Homo sapiens: one gene and its partners. The gene in region 2 interacts genetically with the main gene of each other region. Each region holds a gene or a part of one and is shown on either strand. Other genes may lie near its edges.

Region 1 (5,437 bases), on a different chromosome or scaffold from region 2:
CCCAGCCTCGCACCAATCTCCCCGGCAGGAAGGTGAGGAATCCCCGACCCCTCCCTGTGGCCTCCATTCCCCACTGGGTGGTGGAGAAGGAGAAATTGGGCCCCCATGGTGTCCCTTCCCCATAGCACTGCCCGGGTCCCTGGCCTCACCGTACTGGAAGATGCAGTCCCAGGCCTCAAAGTGCTCCTTCCACACCTTGGGGCTGATCCAGCGAGACAGGCTCCTGGGCATGAACATGAGCTGGACGGTGGATTTGAACATGACCTCCAGGGCATGGAGGAAGTTCAGGCTGGCAGAACTGGGGCTGTGGCCAACCAGGCCCAGCCGCTCTCCAAAAAGAGCTAAGTTGCTGGCTGCGGGGAGGATGCACTGCTGAGCACAAGGCAGCCCCAGGCCTCCTGGCTGCCTCCCCACACTCCCTTCAGTCCTCCATCCCCATCCCTGGCCACTCCAGGGTCTCTGGGGCTGGACCTTCCCGCATGGCCCACACCTTCTATGGTGTAGTGGAAGATGCTGGGCTGGACGTCCAGGGTCAGGCTCCCCCGGGCGTTCTGCAGCACCTTCTTCTTCAGGGCCTGGGAGAAGTCCCTGGCCACTGCATCCACCATCGGGAGGAACCTCTGCACGGCCTTGGGCGACAGCACATCTGGGTTCAGCCGCAATCGGTTGAAGCGCCATTCAGGCCCATTCCTACAGAGGCCAGGGCAGAGCTTGTGAGGCCGCCCCAGCAAGACACAGGCCCTGACCCGTATCCCATCCTCCTTGTCCCCAAGGGGAATCGGCCTGCAGGGAGCTGACTGGGGGCCCTGGTAGAAGCTGCCTGTTTGTGTTCGAGCTGCAGCCTTTTCTCAGAGCGGCCTCCAGGTGCTGGGCAAAGGCCACTCAGGTCTAAGCAGGGATGAGATGGTAGCTTCTGCCCACAGGTGCTGACAGGGTAACTGAGGTCATTCCCGGGACCTGGCGACCCAAGTCTGGCACCACCTCACCCATGCGGGCCCTCCCTGTAGTAACAGGGTAGGGCTTTTCTCCAAGAAAGGAGGTGACCCCTGTTGTCAAGCTTTGCCCACCTCACCCACACAGTGTCCTGAGGGGAGAGCCCCTGGCTGCCCTCTCCTCCCCACCCTTCCCCGCCCTGGGCACAGTGCCTCTGGGGCAGCAGCCTCTGCCTGTCTCTGTGAAGCATCTATATCTTCTGCAGGACAGAAACCAAGCTTTGTGCTTCATGCCATCCTCACCCACAGCCAGAGTGCGTGGGGGCTCCATGGATGCCCCCAGGGAATGGTGGGGAGGAATTTCCCCTGTCAGCCACATTCCTGCAAAACTCCTTTATTTATGTCCAGCTGGCTGCTGTGAGCTGTTGACAGTGATGACAGGCAGAAGATGCACATGCACACGTGCGCCCATGCAAGACCTCAACACCATGTGTGAAGAGACGCATGTGCATGTGTGCACAAACACTACACCCATGCCGGCACCTGCACATGCACACACACAGACACTTGTGCACACACACCACACATACATTCACACACAGACACGTGCACACACTACACATGTGCAAATGCAGGTACAGAGAAACACACAGCATGTGCACAGATGCAAGACACACACACATACAGGAGCGCTCCCCTTCCTTCCATTATGCGCACCCAGCCTCCTGGACCTGCCTTCCTGGGTCCTGACTCTCTCCCAGATGTCATCTATAGGCCAGCCTCAGTGAAGGCCCCGACCCACGGGTGCCCTTTTACCTAAACCCCACTATTCCCAATAGCGTTCCCTTCCTACCATGGAGTGGGGGCTGTCACCACTGTGACATCCTCATCCAGTCCTTCCCCCGTCCTAATGACAACATCCCTGCAGGTGACCGACTCCAAGCATCAGCCTCTCCCTGCCCACCTGACCAGGCGCCACCCTCTCCACGGGCCAGGAAACATCCTCCCCAGTGCCATCAACCGCCCCACCTTGTGCCTTGCTTCTGAGAACAACGGAACCACCAGCCACCTGCGTCCCCACCTGCCTCCTGCCCCGGACTGTCCCCATCAGGAAGGTTTGCCAGGACTGCAGGGACCCTGAGCGCCCTGAGGGAGGCTGTGGCCCCGGCGAACACCAGGCTCAGCACTCAGCCTGTGACCTGGGCCAGTGGAAGTCCCCTTCTCAGGGCCTCAGTTTTCTGACCTATGGGAAGGACAGTCCCCAGACCGCAAGAGAAAGCAGCCGCCGAGGTTGGTGCAGAGCGGGTTCTCACTACACAGAAGGGCTCATTGCTCTGCGTCTTCTCTGCAGAGGTGCCCGTGCCCATTTCTCCACCACCGCCCTGCTTCCCCAACCCACAGTGCAGACGCGACCCCACAGGATGGCCGTCCTCTGGGCCGGGTGCTCACCCTCACTGCCCACCACAGGGGCCCAGGGCAGATGTGCTTTTGGGTCCTACCTCTCTCGCCTCCCCCCTACACCCAGGCTGCCCACCCTGCTCCCAGCTCTCAGCTCCCAACTCGCCGCTTACAACAAGAACACGCCACATTTGTGCCCACGATGTTGTCTGTAGGCCACCCAGGGCTCCAGGATCATCCTGCAGGGATGCAGGCTGTCCACCTGTTGCAGCTTCTCCACATCCTCCGGCAGCATCACACACACCATGCGTGGTCCTCCCAAGTTGTACCTGTGGGGCCAAGCAGGAGGCCCTGCTGGACGGGGTCATGTCCCTCGTGGCCCCACCCTGCAGTCCCAATCCAAAGTGTCTCCTGTCCACCCTCCCTGCTCCTGGATTAGCGGCTTCACAGCTAAAGCCCTCCTGCTGGCTCCCTGGAACCTTTCAACTTTAGTGCTTCTGAGTCCTGCCCTCTCTGCAGTGAGCTGGGGTTTTCTCTGCACTATCCCCTGCCCTGGCAGCACCACAGACCAGCATGTGCTGCACTCCTTCCCCATCCTCCAAAGGATGCAGAGTGCCGGGACCTGCTGGGAATGGCAGTGCTGAGTGCCTGGCAGGGTCCTGGGCAGCAGGGGCAGGGATCTGGGTGTTCCCAGCGAGGGCCAGGGAGGGCTTTACCTGAAAATGGGCCCCAGCTCCTGGAAGGTCTGGTGCATCTCCAGGTGCAGGTGCTCATAACCCTGCTCCCTCCAGATCTGCAGCAGCCTCAGCCACCTGTTGCCTGGATGCTGGGGCATGGCTTCAAACGGCAGCACCGTCCTAGGGGCCCGAGCGGCTCTAGTGCCCAGTGCCCGTGCCCTTTGCAGGGACAGCCAGGGCGCTGCCACGCACACCTCTGCCTTTGCCCTGAGTGCCATTCCAATGCTCCCTCCACCCTGTTCAGCCCAAATCCTTTTATCTCACCCAGGAACCTGCTCTGGAAACATATCACGTCATGGGAGAACTGGCTCTGGACCTGCCTGAGACTCTCAGAGCGAAGGTCAAGGCTGGAGGCCCCCAGCCAAAGGTAGATGAAGGAGAAGTCAGGTGCCTAATTCCCCATTGCTGCAAGTCCTGCTGGTCTGAGGATGCTGAGAAAAGGCGTGGGGTCTGGACTGGGGGTCCATGCTGGTGGAAGGTGGTGGGACCTGGCCTCTCCTTTCTCCAGGGCTGAGAGGAGTAAAATGGATGGGGACTTTATCTTATCGTGAGATGAGAGGGAGCCTTGGATTCTTTTAATAGACTTTATTTTTATACCACAGATTTAGTTCATTGCAAAATTGATCAAAAACTGCAGAAAATGTCCACGTACCCCCTGCCCTGACACAGGTACACCCTCCACCACAGGAGCGCACTGGTTCCATGTGAGGAATCTCGATACGTTGTTATCAACCAGGGTCCTGGAGTCACATGGGGTCTCCTCCTGGTGGTCAACATGCTGTGGGTTTTGACAAATGTATGTAATTTGTATCCCTCCTTGCAGGATCCTAGGAGTATTTTCACTGTCTTAAAAAGAGGAAAAGAAAACCTGTGCTCTGCCTGCTCATCCCTCCTGCCCCAGTCCCTGACATCTCCGATCTTTTTATCATCACCATGCTTTGGCCTTTTCCAAAATGTTGTATAGTTGGAATGACACCGTTTGTAGCCTTTTCAAAGTGACGTATCTCAGTTAGTAATATGCGTTTAAGGTTCCTCCATTTCTTTTCGTGGCTTGATAGCTAATTTCCTTTTTTTTTTTTTTTTCTAGAGGCTGGGTCTCACTTCTTTAGTGGTTGCCCTAGAGTTTGCAATATACGCTTAAAACTCATCTCTCCAACTCCACCTTCATATAACACTATACAGCTTCAGAGGTAATGCAAGCACTTTATAATCATCAGATATTCTTAGGCTGGGCATAGTGGCTCATGTCTGTCATCCCAGCACTTTGGGAGGCTGATGCAGGTGGATCACCTGAGGTCAGGAGTTCGAGACCAGCCTGGCCAACATGGCAAAACCCTGTCTCTACTAAAAATACAAAATTAGCCAGGTGTGGTGGCGCATGCCTGTAATCTCGGCTTCTCAGCAGGCTGAGTCAAGATGAATGCTTGAATCAAGGAGGCGGAGGTTGCAGTGAGTTGAGATCATCCCACTGCACTCCAACCTGGGCAGCAAAGCAAGACTCCATCTCAAAATAAATAAATAATAAGATATTTTTAATTCCACTCACCCATCCCTTGCATCATTGCTGTCCTTCATTTCACATATACATAACTATGATCATCAAATACACTTTCTGGCTTTTATTTATTTATTTTTATTATTTATTTATTTATTTATTTATTTATTTTTGAGACAGAGTCTCACTCTGTCGCCCAGGCTAGAGTGCAATGGTGTGATCTCGGCTCACTGCGACCTCTGTCTCCCGGGTTCAAGCAATTCTCCCGCCTCAGCCTCCCAAGTAGCTGGGATTACAGGCATGTGCCACCACCACGCCCAGCTAATTTTTGTATTTTTAGTAGAGACGGGGTTTCACCGTGTTGGCCAGGCTAGTCTCGAACTCCTGACCTCAGGTGATCTGCCCACCTCGGCCTCCCAAAGTGCTGGGATTACAGGTGTGGTGAGTCACCGCGCCCGGCCTATTTTTATTGTTGTTGTTTTGTTTTAGCAAACTCTTAGATCAATTAAGATTAAGAAAAAATAAAAGACTTCATTTTCTCTTTACTGATTCCTTCTGAAATGCTCTTCCTTTCTTTATGTAGCTCAGGGTTGCTGACCTGTATCATTTTCTTTCTCTCTGCAGAACTTTTAAAAAACATTTCTGGCAAGTCAGTTCTATTGGCAGCGAATCCCCTCAATTTTTATTTACCTGAGAAAATATTTATGTTCACTTTTGAAGGATAATTTCACAGGATGCAGAATTCTAGGTTGATGTATTTTCTTTTTTCTTCTAACACTTGAAATGTTTCCCTCCACTGTCTTCTTGCTTGCATGGTTTCTGAGGGTAAGTCACATGTAATTCTTAGCTTTACTCCTATATAGATAAGGTGTCCC
Region 2 (3,429 bases):
AGGATGAGCCCTAAACCTCATCCTAAAGGATGAGGGCCAGCCAGGGTCTGTTAGGCGGTGCATTTCAGTTGGAGAATTCCCTACCCATCTGACAAAGTCCCATCTGACTCCAGTTGGGCAGAGGAGGGGTAAGGGGAAAGAGGAGGGTGGCCTTTGGCTTTGGGCTCACTTTCCTCCCCCACCTCACCCACTAGCTTCAACCATCTCCTCCCTCCCTCAATTATACCAATCTGAATTCTCCAGGGATTTACCCTGGGTGAGAACAGAGAAGAGAGCTGGTGGTGGGCACCACCCCTGGCTGTGTGATTGGCTCTTTTTGGTCCTGAGTCTTGCACCTTGCCAGATAGGCAATATTGTCAGTGAGGTGGGCAGGGGATCAATGTCCATAGCTGCCAGATCGCAAGGTCTCATTCTTTCCATTTTCCCACTGAACTGCGTAGGCTGGATTTTCTCTTAAAGAGAAAGGGCAGCAGTTGACTACAGAAGGAGGGGATGCTGGCAATACGTCAGATCTCACCTCCCCACACCTTTGTCCCAGGGTGGCCTCACCCATGTAGCTAGGTCTGGGCTGGCTGTACCTCCTGGGACCCCCCCCACCACGCTGCACTGGGGCGGTGTTAAGGCAGGACAACAAAGAGCCCTTCTGAACAGGAGATAGATAAGAAGCTGATTAGGGCCAACGGCCCTTCCCCGCCCTTGGCAGCATCTGGGGGTGGGCAGACCCCTCCATCCTGGGCAGAGTAGGAGGCCTGGGGGCCCATGGGAGCACAGTTTTCTGCAGTGTGCCTTGAAGGTGTGGGTGATGAGGGGGTAGAAAGTGGCTGAAGCGAGATGTTTGTCTAAAAGCACTTTTCTGTCTCCCAGCATCCCAGCCATCACTCTTCCACCTGCTCCTTAGAGAAGGGAAGATGAGTGAGTCGAGCTCGAAGTCCAGCCAGCCCTTGGCCTCCAAGCAGGAAAAGGACGGCACTGAGAAGCGGGGCCGGGGCAGGCCGCGCAAGCAGCCTCCGGTGAGTCCCGGGACAGCGCTGGTAGGGAGTCAGGTGGGTGTCCAAACCTTTGCTTCACTTGGTTTACCCTTTGGGGCTAGGGAGGTGCCTGGAGTTTCATTCAGCAGGCGAGACCATGCATGGAGGGTGCAGAATGATTCTGCGCAGTAAGCGTGTGGGTGTGTCCTCCCACCTGTGTGTACTCCTGCCCCACTTGCAACCCTGGTCAGATCTCTATAGAGACCCCAGGAGAGAACCGGGGGCCGAGGAATTCAAGATAAATTCTGAAGCCAATGGCAAACAGTCCAAACCTAAAGCACCCCAGAGGTCACATGGCCAGTGCTTAAAACACTCGCCTTTTTCTTAATTTCCAATCCACTGTGGACCAGTAATTTTAAAATGCAGTAAAGACGAATGAACAAAAATGAACATAGAAGCCCAGGGTTTTTAATCATTAGATTCAGTGCACGTAAAATGATTTTTGTCAATTTGCTGTAAAGTTGCTGAATACTTATGGTCGATTCTTGTACTTCCTCATCCCAGGTGAGAAACGGGTGCCTGCGTGGGCCAGCACCTGTTTGTGCACAGGCCAGTTATGAGTAGTTCTGGAATGGGCATTGCCCCTGGCTCTTTAGATGGAAATTGAAGCCCAAGAAGTCAAAAATGTTGGGGAGTTGGTGGCAGTGACCCTCAGAACCCTGGTGCTGCTCTCCCCACAAAGTCCTCATAGAAGGATGAGGCTGCCAGCCTGGCGCTGTGGGGCACCCTAGGGAGCATGGCCATTTGGGCATGGGGGGGACCCCATATTGGCCTCTTACAGAGGCAGCTGTCACCCAAGTGAAGGGTGGCTGTTGGTGAAGCCCAGTTACTTCCCTTCCCTGGGAGAGAGGTAAGAGGAGTTGAGTTCGACCTCTGCCCCTTAAACATGATACAGGTTGTTCACCTGCAGGTTTTCCCTGTCCGTACGGTGGAGAGTGGTCTGTGCTGACCTGGGCCCAGGGAGACACGAGCTGTGAGGAGTCTGCTGTGTTGGAATTCAGAGCCTGGGGTGGGGTCATTTGTCCTCTTAGCCTAGCTCCCTCAGCCTCCCCTCCTACCCCACCTGTTAGCCATGGTCAGTGGGAGGTGTCAGGAGGGGTGCAGGGTTACTGGACCCTGGTTATAGACAGACCATGGGCGGCCCCCTAGGAAACAGTAGCTGGCGCGCCTTCACCACACACCTTATATGCATTATGCAGCAGCTTTTTATTCTATCTACGGCTTATTAAAATTTCAGTGGGAATGATGGCAGGGATCTCTGGAGTCCGGCTATAATTCCCCTTCTCTGGGGGCAGCCTGGATGGGCTCCAGGTTTGCAAGTGCAGGCAGGGAGTGTGTGTCCAGCATAGGTCATCTGAGAGGGTGGGCAGTGATCATGGCCCAGTGCTAGATAACCATACATTACCCATTTAATCTCCATGACACCCTGCAAGGGAAGTCTTCACCATTTATAGATGAGGAAACTGAGGCTCCAGCATTAAGTGTCCCACCCAAGATAAGTGTCAGAACTGAGACTTGGGCAGAGCCACCTAACTGTCTTTCTGTCCCCAGAATGCCTTTCCTAGGGGTCTTCTGGGCTCTTGTCATTTTGCATCTTAGAAACCTGCAGGGAAGCAAGGGGAGAGGTGGGAGGCACTTTGCAAAGATGCTCAAACTGGAGCTTTGGATCCTGAAGGGATTCCTAGGTCAGGGATGGTTTGTGGTTCTTGGTTCTTGCTGACTTAACCTTGTTGAGGAGGCAGAGGGCTGTGTCTTCTGAGGGGGTGGAAACAGGTGATGACTGTCCCTGACTACCCCCTCTGTCTTTACAGAAGGAGCCCAGCGAAGTGCCAACACCTAAGAGACCTCGGGGCCGACCAAAGGGAAGCAAAAACAAGGGTGCTGCCAAGACCCGGGTGAGACTTGAGATGGGACTACCCCTGGGTGGATGACTAGCAGAGGATCCTCTTGTTGGCACCATGGCCACGGCTGTGGGGAGGTCTGGGAAGGGGCTCAGTCATCTCAGTTGTGTACCCCCTTCCCTGGTACAGGGATGGCAGTGAGTCTTTGCTAACTGGGGAGAGTGGGGCGATGACTAAGGTCTTACTTCTGGGGGGTTGGTCCTGCCCAGGACACTGCGGAGATCAGGTCAGAAGTCCCACAGCTTTCCTGATCTAGAGAAGGGCAGAGTGGGGAGAATGGAGGGTCCCTGCCAGTCCCTGGGCTGAGAATGTTACCTTCTCTTGGGGTTCCCTGGAGCCTGAAGGGGTGGGGACAGGCAGCAAAGGCCAGATTCACAGTGACATTAGCCTTTCAGAAAAGTTGTTTTGTTTTTTATTTTATTTTTTCTAAGACACGACTCATATCCTCTGAGTCATGGGCGGAGGTGGGAGTAGGGGGCGTGTGTGTATGTCGAGGGGGC
Region 3 (4,756 bases), on a different chromosome or scaffold from region 2:
GAGCACGAGGGATCTGCTGGGACACCACCTGCGTGTATGTGTCCAGATATGTACGTGCAAGCTGACCAGCGATTCCCACTGATCTGCCACCAAGAGCACCAACTCGTGCTGGAGGATCAGGTGTTGGCTCCAAGACCCCAATGGGAGCAGGGTGAAGATGAGGCTGGACACCCACCCAAGTGGTAGAAACCTCTGCATACTTCCTAAGACTGGAGCCAAGGCACCCTCCATCCAGGTGCTATGGCCGTGACCTCATGATGCCTGACCCCAGAAGGCCACCAGAGGTCTGTGCCCAAAATTGGGGGCACACTGGACCCTTCGGGTGCCCCACTTGATATTCTCTCAGCCCACATGGCTGAGGCAGCCAGCTTCCTGCAGGCATAACCTGACAGCCCCTTGCCTCAGCTGCTCCATAGAGTTCTCCCTTTCTTCCAGGGAGTGTCCCTGACAACACTGGCATGGCTTCCCCAGGAGAACCTGCCTAGTACTCATGCATGCCCAACCTGGATGTGCCAGGGAATGAACACCCCAAGAGGCATCCCTTGACCAATGGGGGGCAGGAGTCAGTGGGTAAATCTTTCCATCTTCCCTCCCATCCAAGGGATAAATTGACCCTCCAGTGGACAGCTCTGAGAAGTGTTCTACATGGCTCTTTGGAAGGTTCCAGCAGGATAGAGCCCCAGTTGTCCATAGAGGTGACCAACATGATGATGTAACTTTGTGCTGGCTTTCTCTCCTTCCCTGTTTCATTCTCCCCAGTCCCTTATCTGCTGCTAGGATCTTCTCAAAATAAACTACCAGCATGCAATTCCTCATCTCAGGTTCTGCTCTCTAGGGGTAGCCTAGCTTAGATAGCTGGGAAGGCGGAAGAATGCTCTTCCTCACTGCTCCTTTCCCTGCTCTTTCCTGGAAGGCAAGTATAATAACTGTGGCTGTCACTGTCATTTCCTATGTTCCAGGCACTGTGAAAAGCCCTTGACTTGCATCATTTTGTGTCTTCCTCTCAAAGTCCCATGCAGTATAGGCTGCTGTTACTTCCATTTTGCAAAGAAACGAAGGCTCAGAGAAGTCAAGCAACCTAGTCAAAGCTGCACAGTGACAGACAAGGATTAAGATCAGCTCTGACTCCAAAGCCCATGGTCTTAAACAACCCTTCTGCCTACAGGTGAACATCAAGTTGGTGCTATGGCAAGGCTGGGAAACTGCAGCCTGACTTGGGCTGCCCTGATCATCCTGCTGCTCCCCGGAAGTGAGTATGGCCAAGGATGAGGGTGCAGTGGGGAGGGGAAGCTACAAGGAGAGATATTGGGAATTTCCTTGCACTGCCACATGGCTCCTGGGATTCCCAGAGAATCCCACAAGATTCAAGTCTGAGCCACAGATGTGGGGTAGCTGGTCTCCCACCCACAGACTTCCACAGGCAAACCACCACCCAAGAGGAATGGTGAGACGACCCGGGCTGGTCATCCTGGAAAAGGCCAGTGAGGCGCAGATCTTGTCCGCAAATCTCTACCAAGCTGTCAGAAGCAACCCATGGGTCCTATGCAGCCTTGGTGGGCAGCAAAGGGATCAGGATGGAAGCTACAAGGGGACAGGTTTCATCCTGAAATAAAGAAGCCCAGGCAGAGCTTGGTTTCCAACCATGGAAACTCTGTCTTGAGAGGTAGAGAACTTCCCATCCCCAGGGGTATGCAAGCTAAAGCCAGGATTGATAAAGATGCTGTGCAGCAGGGGTTGGCAAACTTTTTCTGACAGTAATGTTTAGGCTTTGCAGGCCACATACTGTCTCTGTTCCTTGTTTGTTTGTTTGTTTGTTTGTTTGTTCGTTTGTGAGACAGGGTCTCCCTCTGTTGCCCAGGCTGGAGTGCAGTGGCACAATCGCAGCTCACTGCAGCCTCAACCTCCTGGGCTCAAGTGATCCTCCCGCCTCAGCCTCCAAGGTAGTGCAGGGCATGCCACCACACCCAGCTAATTTTTTTTTGTTGTTGTATTTTTTTGTAGAGATGTAGTTTTGCCATGTTGCCCAGGCTGGTCTCAAACTCCTGGGTTCCAGCAATCCACCTGCCCTGACCTCCCAAAGTATGGGGATTACAAGCATGACCCGCCACGCCCTGCCTATTGCATGTTTTTTGGTTTTTGTTTTTTTGTTTTTTGAGATGGAGTCTCACTCTCTTGCCCAGGCTGAAGTACAGTAGCGGGATCTCAGCTCACTGCAACCTCCGCCTGCCGGGTTCAAGCGATTCTCCTGCCTCAGCCTCCCGAATAGCTGGGATTACAGGCACCTGCCACCAGGCCCTGCAAATTTTTGTATTTTTACTAGAGATGGGGTTTCACCATGTTGGCCAGGCTGGTCTCAAACTCCTGACGTCAGGTGATCCACTCACCTCGGCCTCCCAAAGTGCTGGGATTACAGGCATGAACCACCGCGCCCAGCCCTGTGGCATGTTTTTATTTGGTTTTTGCTTTGCTTGTTTTTAACTCTTTTAAAATGTAAGAAACATCTTTAGTTGTTAGGCTATACAAAAATAGGCCACTCAAGCCCTGCTGTAGAGGGCAGAGCATCAGGTAGAGTTTTGAAGCAAACAACCTTGTAAAGTTTCTTCCAGCCTGAAATCCTGAGTCTGGGCCGGGCGCGGTGGCTCACGCCTGTAATCCCAGCACTTTGGGAGGCCTAGGCGGGTGGATCACAAGGTCAGGAGATCGAGACCATCCTGGTGAACACAGTGAAACCCTGTATCTACTAAAAATACAAAAAATTAGCCGGGCATGGTGCCGGGTGCCTGTAGTCCTAGCTACTCGGGAGGCTGAGGCAGGACAATGGCGTGAGCCCAGCAGGCGGCGCTTGCAGTAAGCCGAGATCACGCCACTGCACTCCAGCCTGGGCAGCAGAGTGACTCCGTCTCAAAAAAAAAAAAGAAATCCTGAGCCTGTGAAGCAGTAGAAGCCCTTTGTTGAGAATCATGAACTTGCTCTGTGACCCTGGGCAAACTGCTTCTCCTCTTAGGGCCTTCGCATCCCCATCAGTAAAACGGGCCTAAGAACACCTGAGAGAGGACAGAAAGCATTGCGGGCAAAGTGTATGTTGATTTGTTTGTTTATTTATTTATCAAAAAAAATTCATCGGCCGGGCGCAGTGGCTCATGCCTGTCATCCTAGCACTTTGGGAGGCTGAGGCGGGTGGATCACGAGGTCAGGAGATCGAGACCAGCCTGCCAGCATGGTGAAAACCCATCTCTACTAAAAATACAAAAAAAAATTAGCCGGGCATGGTGGTGCGTGCCTGTAGCCCCAGCTTTTCGGGAGGCTGAGGCAGGAGAATCGCTTGAACCTGGGAGGCGGAGGTTGCAGTGAGCCGAGATTGTGCCACAGCACTCCAGCCTGGGTGACAGAGCGAAACTCCTTCTCAAAATAATAATAATAATAAATATTCACCAAGGTCCTACTCTGTACTAGGCACTGGGAATACAGTAATAAGCAAACAGCCAAGGTCTGCTGGCCTCACAGAATTTATAGTCTAGCTGGAGTGATAGATAAGTAAATAATCATAAGACTCTATAATTATGAAGGATAATAAGAGCTTTGAGGAAGTACAGGGACCTTGGCCTCCTCCAGTTCGTTAGTGCCTGGTCTGGTTTCTTCAAGATGCCTAAGCGTTAACCAGGTGAAACAGGGGTGGGAGAGAGAAAGAAGAGTCCCTCCAAAAAGAACAGCATGCCGGGCACAGTGGTTCACATCTGTAGTCCCAGCACTTTGGGAGGCTGAAGCAGGAGGATTGCTTGAGCCCAGGAGCTCAAGATTAGCCTAGGCAACATAGTGAAACCCCATCTCTACCAAAAAAAAAAAAAATCAAAAAATTAGCAAGGTGTGCTGGCATGAACCTGTAGTCCCAGCTACTCAGGAGGCTGAGGTGGGAAGATCACTTGAGCCTAGGAGGTCAAGGGTGCACTGAGCCGTGATCGTGCCACTGCACTCCAGCCTGAGTGACAGAGCAAGAACTTGAAGAAAAAAAAGAAAAGAAAAAGAAAACCAAAACAAAACAACAACAACAAAAAAAAAAAAACAGCAGGGACAAAGATCCAGAGATTAGAAAGATTTTGGAGTTTTCAAAGAATAGCAAGAATGAGCCAGAATAGCTGGAGCTGAGAGACCGGTATAAGCTGGAACTGAGAGGGTCAGGCAGGGGCCAGGCCACAGGAGCTATTGAAGGATTTGAGTGTTTATCCTAATGATGGCAGCAAATACTCACATGCCAGACACTGCTCTAAATGCCTTCCATATGTTATCGCATGTAATCCTTCCAGCAACACTAAGGTAGGGACGATTTTTATCCCCATTTTACAGATGAGAAAACTGAGGCACAGGAAGTCTTAGAAATATACCAGGATCATGTAATTAATAAGCAATAGAACCAGAATTTAAACCTAGGCAGTCTAGTTCCAACATCCACACTCATCCATCACACCACACTGCCTTTCAGAGCAATAATGTGCCATTGAAGTGCTGCGATGGAGATGGGGTAGCAGAATCAGATTTGAATTGTGAAAAGATTGCTGTGGCTATGGGTTCTTATCACTCTAATCACTGCTTGCACCATCCTTGGGGAGGGCACTGGGGAGTTAACAGTCTCCATCTGGTGGTGTGCTGGTGCTGGCTTGCAAAAACTAATTGTGCACATCTCTTCCCAACTCCCCGATCAATGATGTCACATCAATAGGCTGAAATCAGCTACAGTGAGAGCACTTACACCGCGGAAAGG
Region 4 (4,756 bases), on a different chromosome or scaffold from region 2:
GGTGTAAAAAGAGGAATGAAATTCCCTGGTTCACTGCTATCTCTTTCATTTGAGGAAAGCTGTAAGACAAAATTCATGGATTAATAATGAGAGCTCTGATCCACTTTCATTTCCTTGAATGGGTCACTAGTTTTTATGATGAAAACATACTATGTTATACTTGTTATACAAAGCAAAATTTTAGCCATTACTGATTATATGAAAATGTATCCCAAGATTATAAATGATTTGATGACCACACACAGCCCTGAGTAGTCAGTAGCCTTTACAGAGAACTCTTGCCAGAAGCAATTCACCTTATAATGGGTACTAGAGATAGCCTCTTGTGAAGAACAAGGTTTCTTTTATTAGAAGGTTGCATCAGTGAACACCGATCAGCATTGAGGACTGTGACAGTATGAGAATCTGCTGAAATGAGTTAGGGCAAGCAGATGCAAATCTCTATAAAGACCATAAAATGGCCTAGAGAATGCACTTATATATAACTCCAGTTCTGACAGGGGGGAATAAAGGGTAACTTCCTTCTATAAAATCTATCCTCGTTCTTTAGACTTGGGATTTAAATGCTCAGTTTTTAAACGAGGAATTACTGTGTGCCAGATACTACGATATAATCTTTATACATATAATCCAATAGAAGCCTCACAATACACTAAAGGTAGCTAATCCTTTCCTTTTTCTTTAGCAAATCAGGAAACTGGTGCTTAAGAGGTTACCAAGATTATACACCTCATCTGTTTGACTCCAAAATCCAAACTCTTCTCACCACACTATCTCCCTAGGAGAAAACCATTCCTGGAATTAAAATGGCGGTACCTCATTAGCCAACCTATAGTCATACTTTTTTTGGGAAACCTCTAAACATGGAATATAGAAAATTTAGAAAAACTGCTCATAAATCCACACCTGAAGATAAATCCTACCAATACAAACACTGCTAATACTGAATTATTTATTTTCTAGGCACTTTCAAATCCAGAAAAAAAAGTTTAGAGTTATTTTTTTCACAGTAGCAGGGTAGTCCCAATGTTATGACCTACAAGTAATCCTTAAAATCCAAATCTCTTTGGGGTATGAATCTGTTGTTAGTTAAGTGGCCCTCTGATTTTCTGAGTGGATCATGCACCAAGGAATCCTCTCTGCAGCTGGCCTATTCTGGTTCTGGCATTAGCTTTGCTTCACAATATAAAACAAGTTCTGAGCAGTCTCTAGTCCTCCCCAAGTGCACACTCTGGGAAATGGCAAATTTTTTTAGCCTAGGGGTAGATAACTTTATTATGGGGCAGTACCTTTATCACGAAAGCTCACACTATATCACACCAACATTTGTGAGGTATGTTCTGGGATTCCTAGGTGCAGATGTGATACAGGCTCTAGTCGCTAAGCACACACCAAATATATTGTTTCTGATACCCAACTCTTAAAGCATTACTGTGTACTTGGGAATTTAGAGATTGTTTATTGAGACAGGGATTCATTGTCCAGGCTGGAGTACAGTGGTCTGATCATAGCTCACTGCAGCCTCGAATTCTTGGGCTCAAGCAATCCTCCCACTTCAGCCTCCCGACTAATTGGGACTATAGGAACAAGCCACCACACTCAGCTTATTTTTTAACTTTGTACAGATAGGGTCTCACTATGTTACCCAGGCTGTCTTGAACTCCTGACCTCATGTGATCCTCCCACCTCGGCCTCCCAAAGTGCTGGGATTACAGCCATGAGCCACCACACCCAGCCAGAGATCATTAAATCCTGGTTTCCTACTTATGTATATCCTTTGGTAAATCATCCAAACCTCTCTAGTGGTACTTTCCTAATCTGTTCAAGTGGATTAACTCCACTTCACAAGACAAGAACATATAAAAGTGCTTTGTGCAAATGATAGACAGAGTAACAATACTGGCTGAACCTCAGAACACAAAGCAGATTGGAAAGGTATATTTTCAGATTTAAGATCCTAGGTAAACCTGGAAGCCAAATGTGGTCATCTTGCTCAAGTTGGGCCTCTCCAATCTATAGATGCTATCAGTTAATCCAATTCAGACCAACAGCAGGAAACTTTGGAAGTAATGACAGTCCCTGTCTGGCAAATACATAGCCCTGAAACGAGTGACCCCAAAACTGCCCAGCAGCCTGAGCATTCACTGTAATCCATAATAGTTCTTTAAAAAAATTAAAAATAAAAAAAATAGAGATGTGGTCTCACTATGCTGCCCAGGACTCAAGCGATCCTCCTGTCTCAGTTTTCCAAAGTGCTGAGATTATAGGCATGAGCCATGGCACCTGGCCCATAACTGTTCTTAACAAACCACCTTTGGAAGAAGTCAAGTGCTCTCTCTCCAGTTCCTTGAGAAGCACTTAGAATGCATAGTAAAGACCAAGTTTTAAGTAAGAGATCTAGTGTTACGGCTCTTTTAAAATTTGTCTCGCAGGCTTTCCGGTTTTTGCCAGAAAGCCCTTAAAAAAAAAAAAAGAAAAAAAGAAAAAAATAGGAAGAGATATAATCCCACCATACATACATTTAGGATGACCCAGGATTTCCCAGATTAACAAGGTCGATTATTCCTTGCACAACTCCAATATTTCAAACACCATCTCCCACTCTTACTACCGCCTGTCTGTTCTCCAGACACAGCAAAACCACCAAGAATGCTTGACAGTCTAATTTCAAAAGACAAAGTCAAGGTAAAAACAGCTAGTGCTACTGTAGTGCCTTCAATTCTGGATGAAAGAAGGTGTTTTAATCCTTTCTTCCTGTCAGGAATTCCCCTATGAAAGCCAGAGCACATACCATCCGAGCTGGGGCAGAGTTCTGCCTCTGTGTGAAGAGATCTTTACCCTCCTGGAGTCCATGAGAGTGCAGGCAGCCACGAGATACAGGTCTTACTGGCTTCTTAAACTCAAAGGCTTCCTGCAAGACATAGTTGAGACATCTACTGTCCATGAAAACCAACTCAGGCCTCAGCTTGGGTGAAAGAGGCAAGAAAGTGGGCACTGATCACCTTTCTGCCTCCAAATTAAAGTTTCACCTAATTCCAACAATAGATCTGCGTAACTAAGAATTTCCAAGGCTCTGTCAACAGCTAACTTCTAAAGTAACATCTTTTTCTTGTCATACTGTATTTCCTAACACAAGTATCTGCCAAATATACAAAACACGATGAATAAGCTAAATCACAAACTTTCTGAAATCTAAAGCAAAAATAAATAAAATCTAATATAATTGCCTGTGAATAGTTGTCAAAATTTTCCATCTAGGTCCATCTGTTTCAGGGCTTCATATTTTCCACCTCTTCCTACCAACTGGAGATAATTTTTTCTACTTATAATTATTCTATTCTATACTAAAAGCAATGAAAAAAAAAAAAGCCCTACTGGTTTACTCAACGTGGACGATTCTTACAAGCATAATGTTTTTTAAAGCCAGATATGATAGAATACATATCGTATGATTCCACTTTATGGAATGAAAACACTCACAGGTCCCTTGCCCTAAAATATTCACTTAAGAACTCATAATTAAGTATTAAAAGCAGTAATGGCTAGCACTGGCGTGGGTGGCTGAGTTCCCCGTTGCCCTTGGTCTCGGGGTCGCGGTCGGCACTGAGGCTGCAGCTATCATGGTGAACTTACTTCAGATTGTGCGGGACCACTGGGTTCATGTTCTTGTCCCTATGGGATTTGTCACTGGATGTTATTTAGACAGAAAGAGTGATGAACGGCTAACTACCTTCCGGAACAAGAGCATGTTATTTAAAAGGGTATTGCGACCCAATAAAGAAGTTACCTGGAAGTAAAGACTGGCTGAATTATAGAATGTTCACATTTTAAAGTTCTGAGAGAAATAAAACCATGAAGAATCAAAAAAAAAAAAAAAGCAGTAATGGCTAATATTACAGTGATTTCTATGCCAACACAGTACTAAGTACTTTCTGTGCATTAACTTTTTAACCATCAAATACAACCTGATTGTCCCGATTTTACAGGTGAGAAAACTAGACCTTGCAGGTTAAGGAATGTGCCCAAAATATTGAAGTAAAACAGGACAACTCCAGAGTGAGAGCTCTTTAACCACCATCTATGCTGTTTTCCCTTTAAAACAAAGCTCCAGGCAAGCAACCCTGAGAAGCTATTTCGGGGGAAAACCAGGCATCAGTACAGCTTTGCCCTGGTAAAAAGCACTAGAGGCTGATACACTGTTCCAAGCACTCAAGGCTGGAACTCATTTCCATATTCTTTCTCATGACACTTCCCAGGTTGATAAAGAAATCATCAGGAGAGTTCATGGAGGCAGTGGGTTTCACACTAAACCTGAAGATTGTAAGGACAAGGATTATGAACTGTGGCATTTCAGCAGGAATGGAAAAGGGGAGAAAGTAAATATATAGAAATACAGTAGAGAGAAGGCTGAAAAAATTACAACTGTTTTGGATGCCTACTCTGTGCAATGTCTAAAAGAACAAAAAAGCCAGGCTCATTCAGGGTAGATAACCAGAAATTCACCTTCCAAGCCACCATTTCAGTTACTCTGAGATTCCCTAGAACTTGTTGACCCCGTTCTTACAAATACTGCCAAAGAGCCTTTTCCTAAGCTTACAATTCATTTCAGGGTCAGAGCAAAGAGGCAAGGACAGCCTGGGCAGAGCCTTCCAGACAAACACTATTTGTACATGTAATTACTCCTGTGAGCTACAATCTGAGCAACTCCCGCCTGTCAGGCACCATTTTCAATACTTCATACATAATCTTACTTATT

What was found. A genetic interaction does not mean that the proteins touch.
Region 1: changes in HMGA1 (region 2) and CYP11B2 together harm fitness more than expected from each alone (negative genetic interaction), as found in Homo sapiens cells (one large-scale study listed by BioGRID).
Region 3: changes in HMGA1 (region 2) and CSF3R together harm fitness more than expected from each alone (negative genetic interaction), as found in Homo sapiens cells (one large-scale study listed by BioGRID).
Region 4: changes in HMGA1 (region 2) and CDC25A together harm fitness more than expected from each alone (negative genetic interaction), as found in Homo sapiens cells (one large-scale study listed by BioGRID).

What each region holds. Positions count from the first base shown.
Region 1 is NC_000008.11:142,914,556-142,919,992, forward strand, and holds the start of CYP11B2 (cytochrome P450 11B2, mitochondrial precursor), read right to left. Parts: upstream 3,289-5,437; 5' UTR 3,286-3,288; coding exon 3,047-3,285; intron 2,660-3,046; coding exon 2,504-2,659; intron 691-2,503; coding exon 491-690; intron 354-490; coding exon 150-353; intron 1-149. UniProt on the Homo sapiens protein: A cytochrome P450 monooxygenase that catalyzes the biosynthesis of aldosterone, the main mineralocorticoid in the human body responsible for salt and water homeostasis, thus involved in blood pressure regulation, arterial hypertension, and the development of heart failure.
Region 2 is NC_000006.12:34,239,873-34,243,301, forward strand, and holds part of HMGA1 (high mobility group protein HMG-I/HMG-Y), read left to right. Parts: intron 1-800; exon of another isoform or gene 801-864; 5' UTR 865-908; coding exon 909-1,043; intron 1,044-2,839; coding exon 2,840-2,923; intron 2,924-3,429. UniProt on the Homo sapiens protein: HMG-I/Y bind preferentially to the minor groove of A+T rich regions in double-stranded DNA. It is suggested that these proteins could function in nucleosome phasing and in the 3'-end processing of mRNA transcripts.
Region 3 is NC_000001.11:36,475,926-36,480,681, reverse strand, and holds part of CSF3R (granulocyte colony-stimulating factor receptor isoform a precursor), read left to right. Parts: intron 1-601; exon of another isoform or gene 602-695; intron 696-1,165; 5' UTR 1,166-1,185; coding exon 1,186-1,249; intron 1,250-4,756. UniProt on the Homo sapiens protein: Receptor for granulocyte colony-stimulating factor (CSF3), essential for granulocytic maturation. Plays a crucial role in the proliferation, differentiation and survival of cells along the neutrophilic lineage.
Region 4 is NC_000003.12:48,177,930-48,182,685, forward strand, and holds part of CDC25A (M-phase inducer phosphatase 1), read right to left. Parts: intron 3,868-4,756; exon of another isoform or gene 3,548-3,867; intron 2,912-3,547; coding exon 2,792-2,911; intron 60-2,791; coding exon 1-59. UniProt on the Homo sapiens protein: Tyrosine protein phosphatase which functions as a dosage-dependent inducer of mitotic progression. Directly dephosphorylates CDK1 and stimulates its kinase activity. Also dephosphorylates CDK2 in complex with cyclin-E, in vitro.